3 linked regions of the Homo sapiens genome follow. The protein of the gene in region 1 interacts with the protein of each later gene in a biochemical or structural test. Each region holds a gene or a part of one and is shown on either strand. Other genes may lie near its edges.

Region 1 (6,972 bases):
TCCAAGCATCCTAAATCTACCAAATGCAATTTTTTAGATGGGTACTATCAGGTACCAAGCCAAACACTCACCCATTTAAGAAAAATTACTTTGGAGGGCAAAGGGGAATGAAGAAGAATATTCCTCTCTGGGTTGGGAGGAGAAAATGAACAATAAGTGATACAATCTCTTCCCGGCAGCCTCACACAATGGTGTGTCTTGCAAATGAAACATACTGTGAAACAGCTTGTGAGATGAGCTTCATCAACAATAAGTAATTTTTATTCAGATTTTATCGTTGAATACAATGAACATGATTAAATGTTTCAGATATGCCTATTCAGACCTCAAGCAAACCATTAAAAAATAAAAACTACTAAAAATCATCTTCTAAATCTGCTTTAGGAAGAGATTTAATTGCCAACTCGATGTGTAGAATTGAATTCCTACTTGATAGCAGCACCGTTCCCAAGAAGATGGTCACAACATATTTGCACTTCCCACTTCGGCCTCTTTTCTCATCCCTGCGGATCCTCCCAGCGTTGCCAAATAGTTACAAAGTCAGTCCTTTCAAACCACTGCATTTTGAACTTCCTAAACCTTTAAGAGAGCCTTTGTGTATGGAAAAGAACAATAGCGCTTCAAAAGACATTTCTGCGAGTTCTTCAATATTCCATTTGAATGCTGGGGTTTCAATCAAGGACATCAGCAGACAATTTCTGATTGCTTAGAAGTTGACTTTTATACAGCTTTGATTAGGTGCCCTTCTCAATAGGAAATCAAGAAAATCTTTGATCACTTTCAGTTCCCAGAATTGTCACCAAGCCTTGTCAGGATAGGGAGTGAAAGAGATGGGGGGTGGCGGGGGGGGGGGTGGCGGGGGGGGGTGCCTACTCCTTCTGACATCTCCGAACCCCCATCTATCTTAGTGCCTGCGCAGTTCCGGTGCCATCCAGAATCACTCATCACGGAGATCACAAAAACAATGGGTGCTAATTCAAGGGGTGGGGATGGTTTGTAATTTTATGGATTTCCCAAAGACCTATAATTGGCACATAAATGTACCAACGTGAACTGGATAATTAGGCGGTTCTGAACGTAAGCCACCTTTAATTTAATTGATATGATTACTTGAAAACGTTAAGTGTTGTAAAGTGTAGTGGAACCCCCACACAGCCTTTATTCAAAACTATCAACACTGTTAAAGTGTATTTAACCGGCCAGCAGGAAGGGAGCAGGAAGGAGGAAGAAACGACGGCGCGGATTCTCGCCCCGGTCCCCGCCGGCTGGCTAGGAGCTGCACTGGAGCATCCAGCTCGCAGGAGGGCTCGCCCCCGGGCTCGCCCCCGTCCAGCTCCCAGGCGGAGAAAGGCGCTCTCGCTACCGCAAGCCCTACATCGCCCCTCTTTCTAATGGAGCTAAACACAGGCGTGCGCCGACATCCAAACGCACACGCAGACACCGACCCACGCGGGCGCGCACCCCAGACTCGGCGACACATACACACCGGAGCGCACAGATGCCCGCGTCGCGGCGCTCTCCACTCCGCCCGCCGCCAAGAGCGGAGCGGTAGCCAAGCGCCCCCGGCCTCCCCACCCCCACGCCATTCCTTCAGACTCTCCCAGCCTAAGCGGAAGTGCCCCAGCAGACCCCCAACAATGAGGATTTGTGCGATGCAGTTGGGGGTTGGGGGTAGTTCACACGGAGTGAAACGTACACAGTCTGGCGGGTCTGGGAGCAGCCAAGTGGCGTCCGCCTCTCCAGGCAGCGATCCCTTGTGCCCACTGCCCCCCATCAGGCCCACCAGCACCACCAAAAAACAAAAACAGAGAAAAGAAAAAGCGCCTTAAAAAGTGCAGAGAAAAGATGCGCCCTCCCACCAGGGGTCACAATAATACTCCTCGGGACGCAGCCAGCGGAGGCAGGGTCCTGGCTGCAGCAGCCACCCTGGTTTTGAAATTTACTTTGTACACTCACCCAGTGGCCCCTTTCAGACGCCGCGACACGACCTCCCCCCATCTCGGACTCCCTGCCTCTGGGTTCTCTCGGCGGTTGACACCCTCTTGTGTGCCTGCTTTATGAGCCGAACCACAGAGATTTAAAGTTTCCTTGGTAGAAAAAAAAACTGAGCTCTCTGCATCCAAGTCAGAGCGTCGAGTCTGGAGCAGAGAGAAGGAAGAGGGGCGGGCTGGGGAGGCGACTAGCTGGGCGTGGGGGGAGGGGGTGCTGGGGAGTGGATGGAGGGGGACGAGCGGCAGAGAACAGAGTCCACAGAGGATCCGAAGAAAGGCCGGGGTCCGAGGAACGCGGGATCCAGTTCTCACGGTGCCCGCGAAAGGGCTGGGATTACTGGGATAGAGTCGGTTTTTCGAGAGGTCGAAGCCGAATCTCAGCGCTACGGAGGAGTAGGGAAGTGAGAACGGGGTTCGGCCGAATGAGGAAAAGGGTCTGGCCACCAGCGAGGGAGGGAGGGAGTTTCGGGAGCCCAGGACAGCGGGAGAAGGCAGGCTCGAGGTCCGATATAGCCAGGACCGCAGGAGGAAAGAGGGCGCAGGGGGTCTTGGAGAGAGACGCGTGTCAGGGGTGGACAAGTCTGGAGACAGGATCGCGCGTGGTCGGAAGTAGGGAGACAGGGGCGCGGGGATGGGGGGCAGGACAGAGAAAGAGAAGTCGCCCTTTTCCTCCCAGCAAGTGGAGGGAGAAGGCGAAAAACTGCTGCAGTCGCCATCCTCCCAGCACCCCTAGCCAAACTGCTGAGTGGCGCGTCCCAGGAGCCCTCCTCCGCGCCCCGGGGCTCCAGCGAAGCCTCCTGGCTCCCCGGCGCCCTGTCCTCGCGGGGCACCTGCGGCGCTGAACTCAAGGGTTGCCGCGCGCCCCCGCCGCGCCTCACCTCGCCTAGCCCAGAGCATCCTCCTCCGCTGCCGCAGCCGCCCAGGAAGCGGCTCCCCATGCCCGGCGGGCGGCGGCACTCAGGCGCGCTCTGCAGCCCGGGGAAGCCCGGGCGAGCGCCGAGCTGGGTCCATCCTCCCCGGGAGCCACCGGCCCCGCGTCAGAGTAGGGGGAGGAGACCGCCACCCGCGCGGACCCGCCTCCTCCCGCGGCCCCCCGCCCCGCCGCCCCCCGCGCCCGCCCGGCGCCCCGCGGCACCGCTCACCTGCTAGCTCCCCGGCCGCCGCCGCCGGGCCGTGAGCCCCTCGCCCCGGCCTCGCGGCTCCCTCCGGGGCGCTCTCTGCGCAGCCGGAGCGCGCTCCGAGAGCTTAGCCGAGTGGCGGTGGCGACGAGGAGGTGGAAGAACGAGCGAGCGAGCGAGCGAGCGAGCGGGGGCGCCGCGGCTTGCAGTCGCGCCTCTGGAGCCCCTGCACTCTCTCTCCATCCCAGCGTGGAAGGGGGAGAGACGAGCCGAGAGCGAGGGGTCCCCGCCCCAGCCGCGCCAGCGTGGAGAGGGTAAGGGAGGGGGGTTGTCACAAAGTATCCAGTGTTTTCTCCCCCATCACCACCACTGGACGCAGCTCCGCCTGGCCTCTCTCATTTTTCTCTAAGATCTACCCTTTTATCCAAGCCTCGAAAACATATGCATACCCAAATATATGGAGTGCCAGGAAGGGCGAAACCACGAGGGGAGTCTCCGCGAGGGCATGTTGCCCCCACGCCCCTTGGCAGGAGGGGGCGCTCGCTCCCAGCCGCCAGTGCAGGTTCGGCGGCTCCTGTTTTGACTGAGGTTTCCCAGGCAAAGTTCGGCAAGTTGGGAGGGAGAAGGCTGGCACGTGTCAAGTTTCCGTCAGTCCTCAGGAGAGACCCGTGCCCCTGAGAGCACGCAGACCACGGTTAACTCCGGCTTACTCCCCGCGACTCCCCTACTCGGCTCTTAGAATGACTGGGAGTAAACAATCCTCCGATTCGAAGCTGTGCGGGAGGCGGCTCCAGCGAGTACACAGTCAGTTGCTCCTTGCTTAGGGTCCTAGCTCACAAAGATCCTAGAAACACCAAGTCGCAGAAAATATTGGGTCATTCTGAAAATTCTTCCACCTTGAGACTAGATTCAACTCCAGAAAATTCCTGTTGTGTGGCATACCTGTCTCCAGAGGCCTGAAATGCAGGAGAAGAGAGGAGCCTGGTGAATCAAATCAAGTGCATAATATGTAGATTCGCACAGCACACAAACCACCCTGTTGGACCCAGGTGCAGAAAAGGAAAGCAAGAGGCAGGCAACCCTTCCTTAAAAAGTTTACCGTTACTCTTTTTGGGGCTACACTCCTGTCTTCCAGCTGTATAATAACAAAGATAATGTGATGGATTTGTGCTTTTCTGTTTTGGGGTGTTTTTTTTTCTCGTAGCTTCTGACACTCACCCATGAAAATTTAATGAAGCATTTAGGGTTGTTACCTCCAGAGTCAATGGGCTAAAAATATTTAGCCTAATGCACTCCTTGTGGAGCCAGTAGGTCCAGGGCTGGTACATACAAAGTCATCAAGAGACCCTCCCTTTCTCCACAAAATTCACGACCCATTAAACTTATTCCATAATAACAGCTTCCGTACAAATGGAGACCTGAGCAAACGGAGGCTGTCATGCATCACCTGAAAAGATAGCAATTTACATAGAGACAAGAACAATTTGTAAGGTCATAGCAGGATGCAATCTTGCAAGAAGAGTTGATCAGATGAAATTTCCAAAAAGGTGGGAGGGAGGTCCTATCCCTGATACTACTCGGTTTCTACCTACTTCCAGGTGTGACAGATAATCTACGAGTGGGGAGCAGAGAAACTAGCCTAAGTCTCTACAAGTTTTCCAAAGTTCTAGAAAGTGGGGACAATTGACACCAGATATGCTTCTACACTGTGTAGGAAGTTCAGGCTTACCAGGCAACTCAATTAAGATTAACTTCAGTTTCTTCATCTATGAAGACACATCTCAAGAGTCTAAACTCAATACTGAGGAAAGAGGGACAAATCTGAGAAGACATGGTCGAAACAGGGGAAGGGAGGGTAAAAAACTGTTATGATGGAGGCACAGGTCTAAATTCTCATTGACTGCCAAAAACATTGAAGTTTCTCAATGCTTTGAGGATAGGCTTAGAACATGAAGACCATCTACATGCATCTTAAGGCCCTACTTATAAAACCTGCCGCCTTCACCCACCTTTCACTTCGTTCGGCTTTCTATTGACATTATGATTACAGACTTTGAAGAGAATTAATGACACTGACTTGGCCAAGTAATGGAAATACAAGACTCTATCTCTGCTCTGTGTTGAATCAAGTCCACCACGGAAACTGGGCAAATTTCCCTGAAATTCAACAGGGGTAACAAGCAAAGCTTTTCTCAAATCCGGGCATAACATGTAGATACCCACCAATGATCTTTCAAGTTAAACTAAACCAAATCTTAAAGGAACATTTTAAGTTGTTGTACTAAACATGTCATGAAATAAGTCACCTAATAATTAGGGGTTTTTTTCTTTTGTTCCTTTTAAAATAACAATGTCATTTGTATTAAGTGTGGCATAAGAAAAAAATCTCAGTGAACGTTTCTTTATCATCTACCCCGAGAAACAGTAAAATAAGAACAGCAAAGATGTATATATTGTTTATTATGTTTCAGACACAGTTCTGATGCTTTCCATATATTAACTCATTTGACCTTCACAGCAGCCCATTGGGGAAGGCACTCTTATTGTACTGGATAGAGTATAGAGTTTGGAATTTAATGAGCTTCATTCATCTTTAACAAGTTACTTCTGTCTACGTCAAAATTCTCAACCCTACAATGGTGGTGGATAACACTTGCTTCTTGAGATCGCAGTGAGCCTTAAATGAGATAATATATATATATATATTTTTTTGAGACAGCGTCTGGCTCTGTCGCCCAGGCTGGAGTGCAGTGGCGCGATCTCGGCTCACTGCAAGCTCCGCCTCCTGGGTTCACGCCATTCTCCTGCCTCAGCCTCTCAAGTAGCTGGGACTACAGGAGCCCGCCACCGCTCCCGGCTAATTTTTTGTATTTTTAGTAGAGACGGGGTTTCACTGTGTTAGCCAGGATGGTCTCGATCTCCTGACCTCATGATCCACCCGCCTCGGCCTCCCAAAGTGCTGGGATTACAGGCGTGAGCCACCACGCCCGGCCTAATATATTGGACATGCCTGGCACTGAATAAATCAGTCACCTGGTAAACATTGATTCTCTTCCCAGAATAATTCTAAAATAGTTCATTTAAATTTGACAGGCATTTATGGAGTCCATTCTGTATATCAGGCACTGTGGTAGGCATTGGGAATAATGGTGATAAATCAGAAACATATTCTACCTTTGAGGATCTTGGAGTCAACCTAATAAAAGACACAGGCATGAGCAGCCTGCACATGAGCAAAATGGAGTTTTATTGAACTTTACATAATTTATAACTATGCACATGATTTTCAAGATACTCAAAGGAGCAGCCTATGTAAGTGCTGGTTGACCTATCATGGAAATCAAAATCAAATGTCAGAAATCGTAAGTCCTACTAGCTATTACTACTCCTCCAAAGAAAGGGAAGCAAAGAAGCCCATTTTGTGTATTATATTTTATTTAATTCTGTTTATTCCTACAATTGTTTCAATTAGCCAGAGAGTAATAAAATTTTATGCTGTAAACTATGGGCATTTTACTTTTTCTGTAGCTTTATTGAAGTATAATTGACAAATAATGCCTCAATATTGTATATATTTAAGATGTACAAGATGATGTTTTGATATACATATACATTGTAAAATAATTAGAACAATTAAGCTAATTAGCATATCCATACCTTCACATAGTTACTAATTTTGTGCATGTGATAAGAACAGTTAAGATCTACGCTCTTAGGGCAGGGCATGGTGGCTCACACCTGTAATCTCAGCACTTTGGGAGGCCGGGACAGGTGGAACACCTGAGGTCAGGAGTTTGAGACCAGCCTGACCAACATGGTGAAACCCCGTCTCTACTAAAAATGCAAAACTTAGCCGGGCGTGG
Region 2 (6,197 bases), on another chromosome or scaffold:
CATGATTGACGAGCCCCACGCCATTGTGGTGGACCCACTGAGGGGGTGGGCAAGGGCCCTGGGGGGAGGCCTCTGGGCTGGTGGTAGGAAGCCCCCGGGACAGGGTTGGGGGCTGCACCCACATGCGTGCCCTTCCCTCCCAGGCCAGCCTGAGGACAGAGTCCTTTTCAGTCCCTTGGGTCTTCTCGGCCACCCCTGCCTGGCCCTCCCCATGCTGCCTCTGCCCAGGGCCCCCAGCTGGGCCTGCTTGGGCAGGGATCTGACCTCTGCTTGGCCGGCTGTCATGCACAGCCACACTCTGCCCTGGGGAACAGCTCTGCCAGCGTCGGTGGCTCTGAATGAGCACACTGTGGTTTTAGAGGAAAAGCCCCTCAACCTGCTCAGAAGCAGACTCCCGCCTGCTTCTCTGTAGAAGGACAGAATGCCCTCCTCCCAGTCCCCAGCAGTCCCTGTCCCCAGACCAAGAAGCTGGTGTCCTGCCTGGGCCTGCCTCCTCTGGCCCTCCGGCCTGCCCACACTCACCCCTTCTCCCTCCCCAGGACCATGTACTGGTCAGACTGGGGCAACCACCCCAAGATTGAGACGGCAGCGATGGATGGGACGCTTCGGGAGACACTGGTGCAGGACAACATTCAGTGGCCCACAGGTTTGTGGGGCAGGGTGCAGGAGGGACGGGCATGGAGGGGGCCCGGCTCGCAGAGCCCAGCTGCTGCTGAAGTCACACAAAAGCAAGGGATGGGATGGGGCTTGGACTGGGGCAGGGCAGATTGGCCGTGGAGGCTTTTCCCGAAAGAGGTGACTGTGAGTGGCGTATGAACAGGGTGGAGCTGTCCCGGGCATGGAGGCAGTTCTTTCCACCCCGAGCCTGGGTTGGGGAGGCCAAGCTCTCACAGTGCTCTCTCTCTCCCCAGGCCTGGCCGTGGATTATCACAATGAGCGGCTGTACTGGGCAGACGCCAAGCTTTCAGTCATCGGCAGCATCCGGCTCAATGGCACGGACCCCATTGTGGCTGCTGACAGCAAACGAGGTCAGAGCCCGGCATAAGTCGCAGTCCCCAGCCCTGTCCCCAGCCTTGCCATCCTCCCTACTGAGCCAAAGGCCTCACTTCAATGCCTCCCATCCTTTGTCACTGACCCCCAGCAATGCTGCAGCGCCTTCCAGGCCTCTCCAGCTGGCCTCCCCCTGAACCAGCCCTGCAGGCCTGAGACCCACCCTGACCCTCTGGCCTACTTGTCCATTCATTGGTTGGGTTGCACGGAGGCAGCATAGGTACATTAGGAACGTAGCAAATTGGGGGAGAAGGAATAGAAGTCAGTCATGACTGACCCCAGAAGTCTGGGGGTGATGGGACCTTTTGCCAGTAGTGGCCACAGGAGGAGGAACCGGTGTGGGGAGAGAGAATTTGGTCTGGATGTGTTGAGTTTGAGGTGTCTGGGAACCACAGGTGCCAGTGTCGTGGACAGCATGGCCAGGGCCTGAGTGCCCCTCAGGTCCCCTCTGACTCCACCTCCTCCCCCAGGCCTAAGTCACCCCTTCAGCATCGACGTCTTTGAGGATTACATCTATGGTGTCACCTACATCAATAATCGTGTCTTCAAGATCCATAAGTTTGGCCACAGCCCCTTGGTCAACCTGACAGGGGGCCTGAGCCACGCCTCTGACGTGGTCCTTTACCATCAGCACAAGCAGCCCGAAGGTGGGGGCAGAGGGGAGCCTGGGCTGGGGAAGGGAGGCCTGTGGGCATTGAGTCTCCAAGCTGTGGCCCTGGGACCTGGTGGAGAGGGGGTCACCCTGGGCTCACAGGGCTCAGAGAAGGGTCCTGCTCAGCATCCTCCCCACCCCACCCATACCTGCAGTGACCAACCCATGTGACCGCAAGAAATGCGAGTGGCTCTGCCTGCTGAGCCCCAGTGGGCCTGTCTGCACCTGTCCCAATGGGAAGCGGCTGGACAACGGCACATGCGTGCCTGTGCCCTCTCCAACGCCCCCCCCAGATGGTATGCTTATGCCCTCCCAGTCCCAGCCATGCCTCAGGACCATCTCCTTCCTGTGGCTCCTGACTTCCCCTGACCTTGTTGCCTGTCCCTCTCCTCCTATTCCCCTGGCTCTGCCCCTTGACGGGCCCTTCCTGCAGCTCCCCGGCCTGGAACCTGTAACCTGCAGTGCTTCAACGGTGGCAGCTGTTTCCTCAATGCACGGAGGCAGCCCAAGTGCCGCTGCCAACCCCGCTACACGGGTGACAAGTGTGAACTGGACCAGTGCTGGGAGCACTGTCGCAATGGGGGCACCTGTGCTGCCTCCCCCTCTGGTATGCCCCCTCATCCCGCCACGCCTGCTCCTTGCCCCTGGGCCCCAGCCCCGCCACCCACCACCCCACCTCAGGCAAATGCCCAGCCCCTGCCTCGCCTCCAGCCTCCTTTCCACAACCCAGCATCCAGTCACTCCAGTCTCTGCTTCTCGCCCAGGTCCCCCCAGCCCATTCCTCTGCTATAGGGCCAGGTGGTCTCGAGGGCCACAGTCGCGCTCACACATCCTCTCCCACCAGGCATGCCCACGTGCCGGTGCCCCACGGGCTTCACGGGCCCCAAATGCACCCAGCAGGTGTGTGCGGGCTACTGTGCCAACAACAGCACCTGCACTGTCAACCAGGGCAACCAGCCCCAGTGCCGATGCCTACCCGGCTTCCTGGGCGACCGCTGCCAGTACCGTGAGTGAGCCATCCCTGGGCCCCAGGGCATGCGGGAGGGTGACGGGGGACCCCAGAGCATGGGGTGATGTTCAACCTGTGCCTGGGACCCACAGGGGCAAGTTCAGGAAAGAAGGCCTTATGCAGCTGAGCCAGGCCCAAGCTGCTGGCGCTTCCCCACAAAGGTGCTGGCACACTTCCCCTGAGGCAGTGCACCCCCTGCACCAAGATTATGCAAACAGAAAAGCTCTGTTCAACCTATGGAGAGCCCTCATGAGGGTGGGGCTTGAGGCACTTCTCTCCCTCCCCAACCACAGGGCAGTGCTCTGGCTACTGTGAGAACTTTGGCACATGCCAGATGGCTGCTGATGGCTCCCGACAATGCCGCTGCACTGCCTACTTTGAGGGATCGAGGTGTGAGGTGAACAAGTGCAGCCGCTGTCTCGAAGGGGCCTGTGTGGTCAACAAGCAGAGTGGGGATGTCACCTGCAAGTGAGTGGGGCCCTCCTCCACAGTTCCACCCAGCTGGGCCCCTGCCCTGTCCTAGCCCTGCCCTGCCCCTCCCTTCCTCAGCATCCCAGGCACGCCTCTGCCAGCCCCAGCCCCAGCCTCTGATTCCTTCCTGCAGCTGCACGGATGGCCGGGTGGCCCCCAGCTGTCTGACCTGCGTCGGCCACTGCAGCAATGGCGGCTCCTGTACCATGAACAGCAAAATGATGCCTGAGTGCCAGTGAGTTGGGCCCGGGCTTCACCCAGGCATAGATCATCGCTCCCTTCCCCAGATTTGAGCAGGAGGACCGTCAGGCCTCAGTGCCCACCCCCCGCCCTGTTTTCCTGGCAGCAGTGGCTATGGAGGTTATACCTACTCAGCCGTGTCCCTCCTTTCTGCAGGTGCCCACCCCACATGACAGGGCCCCGGTGTGAGGAGCACGTCTTCAGCCAGCAGCAGCCAGGACGTAGGTGGCAGGGGTTGGGGCAGGCAGGGCCACCGGGACCTAGAGCAGGGGGACCGTGTGCCTCCTGCTTCCCTGAGCCTTGGTGACTCAGTGTCCCACCTCTTCCCTCCAGATATAGCCTCCATCCTAATCCCTCTGCTGTTGCTGCTGCTGCTGGTTCTGGTGGCCGGAGTGGTATTCTGGTATAAGCGGCGAGTCCAAGGGTGAGTCACAGGGATTCTGGAACATTCTGGTCATTATTTTGCCATCCTAGCCTTCCCCCCCAATAATCTCTGTCTCCTTATACTCCTGCCTTTCCCCAGGGCTAAGGGCTTCCAGCACCAACGGATGACCAACGGGGCCATGAACGTGGAGATTGGAAACCCCACCTACAAGATGTACGAAGGCGGAGAGCCTGATGATGTGGGAGGCCTACTGGACGCTGACTTTGCCCTGGACCCTGACAAGGTGGGCTGGGAGGCGGGCAGGGTCGAGTGCCAAGAGGCCGTGGGTGGCCTAACCAAAGGTGTTGGGTTAGGTGAGGGACGGAGGTGGGGGTGGGGTAACCTGGGCTACAGGCCCAGCTCCTGAGCCCTACCTGAACCCTCTGTCACCCTGCAGCCCACCAACTTCACCAACCCCGTGTATGCCACACTCTACATGGGGGGCCATGGCAGTCGCCACTCCCTGGCCAGCACGGACGAGAAGCGAGAACTCCTGGGCCGGGGCCCTGAGGACGAGATAGGGGACCCCTTGGCATAGGGCCCTGCCCCGTCGGACTGCCCCCAGAAAGCCTCCTGCCCCCTGCCAGTGAAGTCCTTCAGTGAGCCCCTCCCCAGCCAGCCCTTCCCTGGCCCCGCCGGATGTATAAATGTAAAAATGAAGGAATTACATTTTATATGTGAGCGAGCAAGCCGGCAAGCGAGCACAGTATTATTTCTCCATCCCCTCCCTGCCTGCTCCTTGGCACCCCCATGCTGCCTTCAGGGAGACAGGCAGGGAGGGCTTGGGGCTGCACCTCCTACCCTCCCACCAGAACGCACCCCACTGGGAGAGCTGGTGGTGCAGCCTTCCCCTCCCTGTATAAGACACTTTGCCAAGGCTCTCCCCTCTCGCCCCATCCCTGCTTGCCCGCTCCCACAGCTTCCTGAGGGCTAATTCTGGGAAGGGAGAGTTCTTTGCTGCCCCTGTCTGGAAGACGTGGCTCTGGGTGAGGTAGGCGGGAAAGGATGGAGTGTTTTAGTTCTTGGGGGAGGCCACCCCAAACCCCAGCCCCAACTCCAGGGGCACCTATGAGATGGCCATGCTCAACCCCCCTCCCAGACAGGCCCTCCCTGTCTCCAGGGCCCCCACCGAGGTTCCCAGGGCTGGAGACTTCCTCTGGTAAACATTCCTCCAGCCTCCCCTCCCCTGGGGACGCCAAGGAGGTGGGCCACACCCAGGAAGGGAAAGCGGGCAGCCCCGTTTTGGGGACGTGAACGTTTTAATAATTTTTGCTGAATTCCTTTACAACTAAATAACACAGATATTGTTATAAATAAAATTGTAAAAAAAAAAAAAAAAAAAAAGGCCAAAAAAAAAAAAAAGAAAGAAAAAAAGCCGCTGGTGTCTGCCTGTGTGTGAGAGACGCTGGGAGCTGGGGCTGCGCTTTCCTGCTTCGGCCACCAGAGGGAGACCTGCCCCGTGCTGGAGGCAGGCTGGCGCGTGGTTTTTAGTGCCCTTCTCCCAGGGCCCTCCCCCTCTCCATCTTACTGTGCCCGGGAAGCGGGTGGCACTGGACTTGACATGGAAGATCTGCTTCTCCTGGCTGTGTGACCTTCAGCCATGACTTCGAGTCTCCAGATTTTGTGTTCCCTCTGGGTCTAGGACACTAACTCAGATCTGTTTCTCTGCATTCACTTCTACCAGACACCACCCCCCTACCCAAAATGATCACCCACAGTGAGAAGCCCCACTATAAGAAGTGAATACACTGAGGCTGCAAAGGTTTTCTCATCCTTCAGGGTCCTCCCATGCGGTTCTCTCTGCCTGAGTCTGCTCTTGAAGCACTGACGTCTCACTTTGTGGAGACTAATGAATCAAATGCGAAGTAAAATGCTGCATTCCAGAGCCAGGTGTCTCCTGCGGTAAAGGAGAGCTGGGAAGACCAGTTTGCCAGGCCCTCTAGGCCCCCAGCAGCTCCAGCTCACCAATCATTTCAGTCATTCCAGGGGGTAACAGGAAAAAACTGTCAATCAAAAGTGTCCAGGTCCATTTCAACCCCTGCCTAGAGGGGGAAACTTCTTGCAGAAAGTTGCACAGTTTACACTGCCCAGGACTAGAGAGGGTTTGAGTCCCAGTACAGCAAATATGAGCTCAGGAAGGGTGGCTGCAAATGTCTGAAGATCCCTTACCCAACTCCCAACCAGGAAGTGCTGCCTTTCATTCCTCCTCCCTCACTGGTTCAACTCCAGGAGATTCCTCCCAGGCTTCCTTCTGCCTTGGGGAAGCTACAAGTCTAGGCACCTGTGGAAAGAGGAGCCCTCCCCTTCCCTTCTTAGCCTTCAGAAGCTCTCTCCAACCTCATCCTCCAAGC
Region 3 (7,818 bases), on another chromosome or scaffold:
AGAATTTTCTTTTTTTTTTTTTAAGAAAAGAATTTTCTAAAAGACATTGAATGCTAAAGCCCAGAAAAAAACATAATATCAATTGGCATTTAAAAGTCATTCAGATTTTATAGCAGTTACCTAGGGCCTGCAGAATGTAAGTTGAGTAATTTCATTTGTAATTCTAAATTGAGAAAATACATTTATAATTATAGCTGAAATTATAGATATATTTAGCAATGCATCTTTAGATGTCTTTTAGTTCATAATTATTCAATGCATGATATAGATAAATTTTCACAGTATGTTCACCAAGTTCCAATATAAACATAGTTCCTAAAACTGTGATTCTATATTCTGGCAATGTCTATCTGGCATGCTATATTTTCATCACATGATGCAAATCCCTCTTCTTTGGAAATGGAAGAAAAACCTCTTCTTAACACCCACATGAGTAACCAGAGACACCTACAGACTAGCATCCACCCAGTAGAGAAGGTCCTCTTCATAGTCCAGAGTCAGCCCACTGGGCATGACCAGACTGCTGTTCACAATGGGTACGCGGAAGTTTCCTCCCAATGTGGCTCTCTCGATTTTGGCATGTGTATCCCAGTCAGCCCAGTACAGGTACCTAGTCATACAAAAGGAGTCAATAATTAATTCACAGGGAACCTCATAGTCCTTTAAAAAAAAAAAAAAGGACAATATTCTTTAATTGCAAATTGCCAGTAACATGGCAAAAGAAACTTCATTTCTACTTACACAACTTGTCCAAAGGAGATCTAGTAAGTCAGGGTGTTGACTTCCTAGTATGTTGCCAACCTTTCTGCCATCAAAGGGAGCTATGCGCTGCACCCTCCTTCCCACGTAAAATCACTCAATATGCTTTCATTTTTGAATCTGTAGCCATAGTTTTATAAGCCCATAACACATTGGCTATCTATGAACATAATTTCAGGCCCCATTTTTTCCAGAAATAAGCAGACAGAAATATAACAAGGAAGATGATGGCATACCCTTGGCAGGGATCTAACACAATTGCTCTTGGTTTTGGAACGCGGGCTATCACAGTGCGGTTAGACCCATCTTCAGCCATGGAATTAATCATCTGGTTGAGGTAGTCACTGTAATAAATTCTTCTAGTAATCCAGTCAAAGGCAATGCCATCAGCAGTCCCTATACCTGGACACATACAGGCAGACACACACACAAGCACACACAAAGACATTAGAGTCTCATATGCATTAGAAACACTCAGTCATCCATGTGTGTTGACCCCATTGTGTCTACTTGCAGGACAAGCAGCACCTGGAGTGCACTTACCTGAAGCAATGACAGTTGGAGTATGGATCCCTGAAGACAGGGTGGCATAGGAAATCTGTCCAACTCCAGAGGCTAAATTTTGTGTGAAGTAGATTCTATCACTTACACTGTCATAGTCTAGAGACATGACAGTTCTTTCCACATTTATTGTTTGGAAAGGTGGGCTATGGTTTTCAGGGTCCAAGTGTAAGCTTCTCAAGGAATTAGACAAGGCAAAGATGAGGAAATTTTCTGTTGAAATGGCACAATTCTTGCCATCACTTTGCAGGGTCCCAAAGGCACAGTCACATTTTGGGGTGTGCAATCCAGGCAGAGCAAAGCAGAGATGAGAGCACCCACCATTGTTTTCCAAGCAAGGGTTGTTGTTGACCTCTGCTGGTGACCGGGGCTGGACTTGCTTGTCAAAGATGGTCACATCTCTTAGCCAGTTGATATTGTCTCTTATCACTGTGGGTGGCTCTGTGTTCTCTGGTTCCTTGCTGGCTTGGAAGATCTTTTTCAAATTCCTATCTACCCATATGATAGAATTTTCAAAAACAGTGATGCCATAAGGAGTTGGGTAACGACTGCCATAACGAATCACTTCAGAGTTCTCTCCATTGATACGAATCCTTGCAATTATATCTAAAGAATCATCAACCCAATAAACGTAGCCATCACTTCGGTCCACTGCCAAGCCCCGTGGTGTGACAATGCCCTCTGACACAAGCACTGTTCGATTGGTACAGTCAAGGAAAGAACGCTCAATCTTTGGTCTCTGCCCATAGTCAGCCCAGAAGAGGTATCTGTTCTTGGGATCTACAACAATATGCCTAGGCATGTCCACTGTGACTTTAAGAAGAACACGGCGGTAAGTAGTATTGATCCGCAGAACTTCTATCAGTGTTTCAGAAACAAAGGCATTGGTGAAATAAAGATTTCCTATGGGAAAAATGAAAGTGCATGCTGATCAATGGAGAACCAAGAAGAAAAAAAGGGAGAACTTTACAAATTCAGAACAAAATATATAAGGTTGAAGTCTGGGTCACTATATGTTGTCTTTTCCAAGATGATAGTGTCCCAGTCTAGGCTTAGAAAAATAAGTTCTTACTCCTAGGAATTATAGAGATTGTGTCTTCAAATTTAGAGAGAAAGTGCCTATCTTCAGCTTCTAAAGTAGATTAGAATTCATAGCAACATCATAACCCACTTTCTACTGAAAGGTATATTTTCCAGAATGTCCCTCCTTTTCTATCTGAAGCTCTAAATGCTTAATACCTACTTGAAACACTCTAAATATACATTTTCATAGCACAACTTCCATCCCAATGTGATAAAAGTAGCAAAGAGGGAGCACCAGCAGCATCTCAGGTTGTTATTAATGTTATCAAATGGTCTTTGAACTTAAGGTTAACATGAAGTTTTTCCTTAGTCTTTCTAACTAATGTAGGTGTTTTCATCCCATGGACCTTCTAAAAGTGACCAAAAGTCCATTTCCCTTTGGGCCTTATGTACATGCTAGAATAAAAAGATAACTTTATGAAGATAGTATAATAAGTAGAGAATGACCACAAATTATTGATTTCATGTAGTTGAAAGTCTGTTGTTGAACTATCAATGCTACTACCAAGACACACATATTTTGTTCCTATATCTGATTCAAACCACCTCTAGAGAAATCAGGCCAATGTGAAATATGTTACTGATACATTTTTTCATTACCTAACTCTACTTGCTATGTATGCATTTGCTCATTTCCAATCCTTTAATCCAGGGTTGGCAAACTTTTTCTGTAAAGGGCCACATAATAAATATTTTAGGCTTTGCAGAGCATATGGTTTCACAAGTACTCAACACTGCCACTGTAACATGAAAGCAGCCATAGACAATACACAAATAAATGGGCATAGCTGTGTTACAATAAAACTTTATTTACAAAAACAGGCAACAGGCTGCATTTGACGCACGGGCCATAGTTTGCTGACTACTGCTTTATCTATACCCTCAGAAATAGTAATTTCTATTCAGGAACGGGAGTTAGGAACCCAATTAAAGCTTTATTTAACCATACTTCCATATTTACTTTTTGCAATAAACTCTTATTATAGTACTTAGATTTTCATAATACATGCTTATATTTCCTTTTTTTAAATTTTTTTTTAATTCGAGACAGAGTCTCAGTCTGTCACCCAGGCTTGATGGCAGTGGCTTAATCTCGGCCCACTGCAACCTCCACCTCCCGGCTTCAAGAGATTCTCCTGCCTCAGGCTCCTGAGTAGCTGGGATTACAGGCGTACGCCACCATGCCTGGTTAATTTTTGTGTTTTTAGTAGAGATGGGGTTTCACCATGTTGGTCAGGCTGGTCTCAAACTCTTGACCTCAGGTGATCCGCCTGCCTCAGCCTCCTAAAGTGCTGGGATTACAGGCATGAGCCACTGCGCCCTGCCTACATGCTAATATTTCTAAGTGATGCCTACTCACCAAGCTTGATTCAATGATACTGATTTTATGTAGAATTGGATTATATTCCAAAACATATAATACCACTAATTATGAGTGGTATTTTTACTCAGATGAGTGATAAAAATGAGGGGTTATTCAAGCTTATGTGCATGAATAAATACAACTAAGTTAATATAATACTGGACCAGGCATTTAAAAAAATTACTAATAAAATATCTCATGATCTAAGGGATTTTTATATATGAATAAAAGGAAGCAATTAAGAATTTGGCAACTAAAATTGCTCAGCTTCAAAGCAAATGAATGCTGTTCCATAGTTTATATTTTTATATCTCTTTCTCTTGAAAATTTAGAAAATTTCTAATGCAGAAATCAGGTGCAAATCTAAGTGTAAAAAAAACAAATCCACATAATTTAATATTTTAGCCACTTTTGTCTCCAGATTATGTTAATAACAGAAGAAAATGATAAGGATTAATTTGTTATAAATCTGTAAACTGAAACACCGTATCATTTATCAAATAGACACGTAGCTTAATCTAGATTCAATGTATCTTAAATGGTCTTAATAATTGTCTAGAAAAACAAACCTGTAGCACATGGAGTTAGGCTAAACTTTCTAGCATAAAATAAGATGACAGAGATGCAAACATATTAAAATCACCATATAGCTTACATACCTGCTACCCAATCCACTGCAATACCCCGGACTCCATTTTCTCCTATTCCATGTGTCACAATGTTCATCAGAGAAGATCCATCTGGTTTAATTCTACGGATCGCATTATCAGATGCCACTGAGCTGCTAAAATCACACCAATAAATAAAGCCAGAGGACACATCCACATCCACATGCAGTGCGTTTCGTCCTGGAAGTTAAGAAAAGATCATTAAAAAATGCTGTCACTGAAATTAGAACTTTTAAATGTCTGCCCTTCCTCTCAAACCCTCATTCCCAACCCCCTGCTCTGAGCATCTCCCCATTACAAAATGAAACCCTTTTTTCCCAGTTGCAGTGAGCAGACCCACATCTTGGTTTCTACTCTTTCCCACAATAAGGAGCTCTGGCTCCCGGGAGAAATGTTGATTATAGGTTTAGGCAGGGAAGGTACGAAGTGAGTGTGAAACATCTTATTGTACCAAGAAACAAGGCATACACAGAAATATACAGGTCGCCACTTGAAGAGGTTCTCCCTGGCCAAAATGGATCCACTAAAACATCAAAAGAAGGATTACAGTAATTGACTGTAACACACTGAATTTAAAAAATAAAAATTTGAGCCCATAATAATAATAAATTATTTAAAAAGTAAACCGGGGAGACACGAAGAGCTTTCCTTTATAGAAGAATATTATCTAACAAATGTAAAGGGAATGCTAAAATAAGAAAATCACCATTTTGCAATCCTCGATTAAATAATCATTTCAAACAAGGATCATCCATGGCTGCCAAAACCAATGGGTAAAAGGTGCTTGGGAGCCAAGACATTCACAGGGCCTAAGTGTGATTGCATAGATTCCACCAAAATTAAGAAGGAAAAAAAATACAGCTTTAAAAAGCAGCAGTGTAGCAGTGACCACCTTAACCAAGTGATCAAACTCAAATGCCACTAAGAGCAGGGCAAGCTGACATTATGTTCTTCCTAATAAGATTCTGTATCAACTAACACAGCATAACCTATAAAGTATTATTGCTAAATGTATTTAACCTTGATCTAATCAAGCAATTAGACCTAACTTCCATTTCATGAGAACTGCAGGGTAAAAAATGAAAGACAGACTAAATATTCAGACAAATCCTCAGTGTGGGATTCTCAAAGACAACAGGTCTGCCTCTTTAAAACATCAATGTCATAGCAAAAAGCTAGAGGCAACTACTCCAAACTGGAAGAAACTAATGAGATATTCCCAGTGCAGTGCATGAATCTTGATTAGATCTTGGATGGAACAAAACAGCTATATATAAAATATTGTGAGGCCAACTGGAGAAATATGATTATGAATATTTCATAATGCCCTTTGAAACTGTATGCTAACATATGTAGGGGTAAAGTGGCATGGTATTAAAATTTATTTTTAAAAGGTTCATAAAAAATGAATGTGAATGCATATGCATGTACACACACACACATACAAATTGAGAGCTCAAATGTGAAGAAATGTTAACAACTGTTAAATCTTGGTAAAGGGTATAAGGATATTTCCTAAATCTTTCAACGTTTCTGTGTTTGAACATTTTTTTAATGAAAAGCTGGGAGAAAAAAACTATTGAATTTGTCATATCTGTACAAGATGATAACTTAGATCCATAACTTTTTAGATATGGAAAAACAAAGATGAGTCATGGGTCCACGTGAACATGACCATCAGGCAGGAGGACGTGTGGGACTGGAAGCTCTCTGATTCCCTTCTCCAGGTGCATTTCTGTATTTTCTGACCATCTCTACAACCCCTTCATTGACTTCATCCTTTTTTCCTTCCTTTCTACCCTCTATTTCTCTCTTTAGCCTGTGACATTCTCCTAGCGATGTTAGAAAACTCTTAGTTCCTCTTGTGCTAAGGTATACCTAAAAACCTTGGCTCATCTAGGAAGCAAGTGATCGTTTCATACATTCACAGTATGTAAGCACAAAGTGCTGCAAAAATATGATTACTAAAGAGGGACTGACACTGTGAACTCTTTTGCTTCAATTCACCAAATATATATTAATAAATCATATTTGTGGACTATTTCATTACCATATTAAATAGTAGTATACCTTCTACCATAAATCTCCATTAATAATCAGAAATAGGGCACAGTTCTTTGGAACACCAACTCTGTAGTACTTCTTGCAAACCCATCCTACATTCTATATTGCTCTGGGCCTGTGGTTCTTAGCGTGATCCATGGGCCAGCACCGTCAGCATGCCCTGGGAGCTTATTAGGAGTGCAGATTCTCTGGCCCTACCCTAGACTACAAAATCAGAAAAATCTGGGGACGAGGTCTGGAGCTGTGTTGGCGTGAGCCCTCCAGGTGATTCTGAGACACACTAAAGTTTGAAAAACACTTTAGGCTGTGCCAGTTGATTTAAAGGGAAAGGAAAGCTTCATTATGCACTGAATCCACACATGAAGAAATGTTTTCATGGCACCAGGGATTTCAACCTGGTGCCAGATGAAGTCAAATCTTACTTATATTGGAGTTGGCATACCTTGGCCTGCCACCGGCACCATGGTTTCTGAATGATCTGACAATTCCAAGCTAAAGCCTCTGATTGCAGACAGCATTGAAACAACAATGAAAGAGTTATATGGAGAGCAGGACCGATTATCAGGATTGAGTTTAAATCCAGTGGCACAGGCGCAGGAAAACAATCCTCCTGGTACAGGCAGGCAAATCTGCTGACAGGCATTCATGTTGTTGCTACAGCCATTTGAGGATTCGGCGGCATCTAAATGAAAACAAAATCCATTTGTAACTTTTGATCCTAGCTACTCGCCACCCCATCTCAAATTTCTTTAATTGGGTCACCAAATAATTTATTCTAAAAATTAATAACCAACATATAGTAGCTGAGTTAGCAATCTAAAAACAACATCGGAGAGACTAGAGCTTATACAATAACACCTAAAGGTATGAAACCAGTAACCCAACTATTGTATAATAGTTAGAGAATGGGGCTTCACTTGTTTTCTTCTACAAATCATGCGAGGATTAGGGAGGTCAGTATATAAATCTGCTCATAATTTGCCTATGAACTGGCACTTAAAATAATATGTTCAGTTACATGATCAATAATGTGATTTTTTTTAAATATATGAAATAAGATTTAAAGAATAGTCCTGGAATTAATGGCATTCCCAGTGACTTGGAAGAAACTGGAGACTATTATTCAAAGTGAAGTAACTCAGGAATGGAAAACCAAACATCGCATGTTCTCACTGGTATGTGGGAGCTAAGCTATGAGGACACAAAGGCCTAAGAATGATACAATGGACTTTGGGGACTTGGGGGAAGGGTGGGAGGGGGGCGAGGGATAAAAGACTACAAATAGGGTGCAGTGTATATTGCTCAGGTGATGGGTGCACC

What was found.
Region 2: the proteins of DAB1 (region 1) and LRP1 form a complex in vitro, tested with the Homo sapiens proteins (2 studies listed by BioGRID).
Region 3: the proteins of DAB1 (region 1) and LRP2 form a complex in vitro, tested with the Homo sapiens proteins (2 studies listed by BioGRID).

What each region holds. Positions count from the first base shown.
Region 1 is NC_000001.11:57,421,061-57,428,032, forward strand, and holds the start of DAB1 (disabled homolog 1), read right to left. Parts: upstream 3,001-6,972; 5' UTR 2,870-3,000; intron 2,053-2,869; exon of another isoform or gene 1,957-2,052; intron 1-1,956. UniProt on the Homo sapiens protein: Signaling adapter of the reelin-mediated signaling pathway, which regulates the migration and differentiation of postmitotic neurons during brain development.
Region 2 is NC_000012.12:57,208,172-57,214,368, forward strand, and holds the end of LRP1 (prolow-density lipoprotein receptor-related protein 1 preproprotein), read left to right. Parts: coding exon 1-45; intron 46-539; coding exon 540-646; intron 647-911; coding exon 912-1,028; intron 1,029-1,520; coding exon 1,521-1,697; intron 1,698-1,857; coding exon 1,858-1,998; intron 1,999-2,135; coding exon 2,136-2,309; intron 2,310-2,546; coding exon 2,547-2,708; intron 2,709-3,004; coding exon 3,005-3,179; intron 3,180-3,315; coding exon 3,316-3,417; intron 3,418-3,578; coding exon 3,579-3,643; intron 3,644-3,755; coding exon 3,756-3,846; intron 3,847-3,945; coding exon 3,946-4,090; intron 4,091-4,243; coding exon 4,244-4,384; 3' UTR 4,385-5,190; downstream 5,191-6,197. UniProt on the Homo sapiens protein: Endocytic receptor involved in endocytosis and in phagocytosis of apoptotic cells. Required for early embryonic development. Involved in cellular lipid homeostasis.
Region 3 is NC_000002.12:169,205,028-169,212,845, forward strand, and holds part of LRP2 (low-density lipoprotein receptor-related protein 2 precursor), read right to left. Parts: intron 7,181-7,818; coding exon 6,941-7,180; intron 4,615-6,940; coding exon 4,426-4,614; intron 2,224-4,425; coding exon 1,303-2,223; intron 1,162-1,302; coding exon 996-1,161; intron 611-995; coding exon 452-610; intron 1-451. UniProt on the Homo sapiens protein: Multiligand endocytic receptor. Acts together with CUBN to mediate endocytosis of high-density lipoproteins. Mediates receptor-mediated uptake of polybasic drugs such as aprotinin, aminoglycosides and polymyxin B.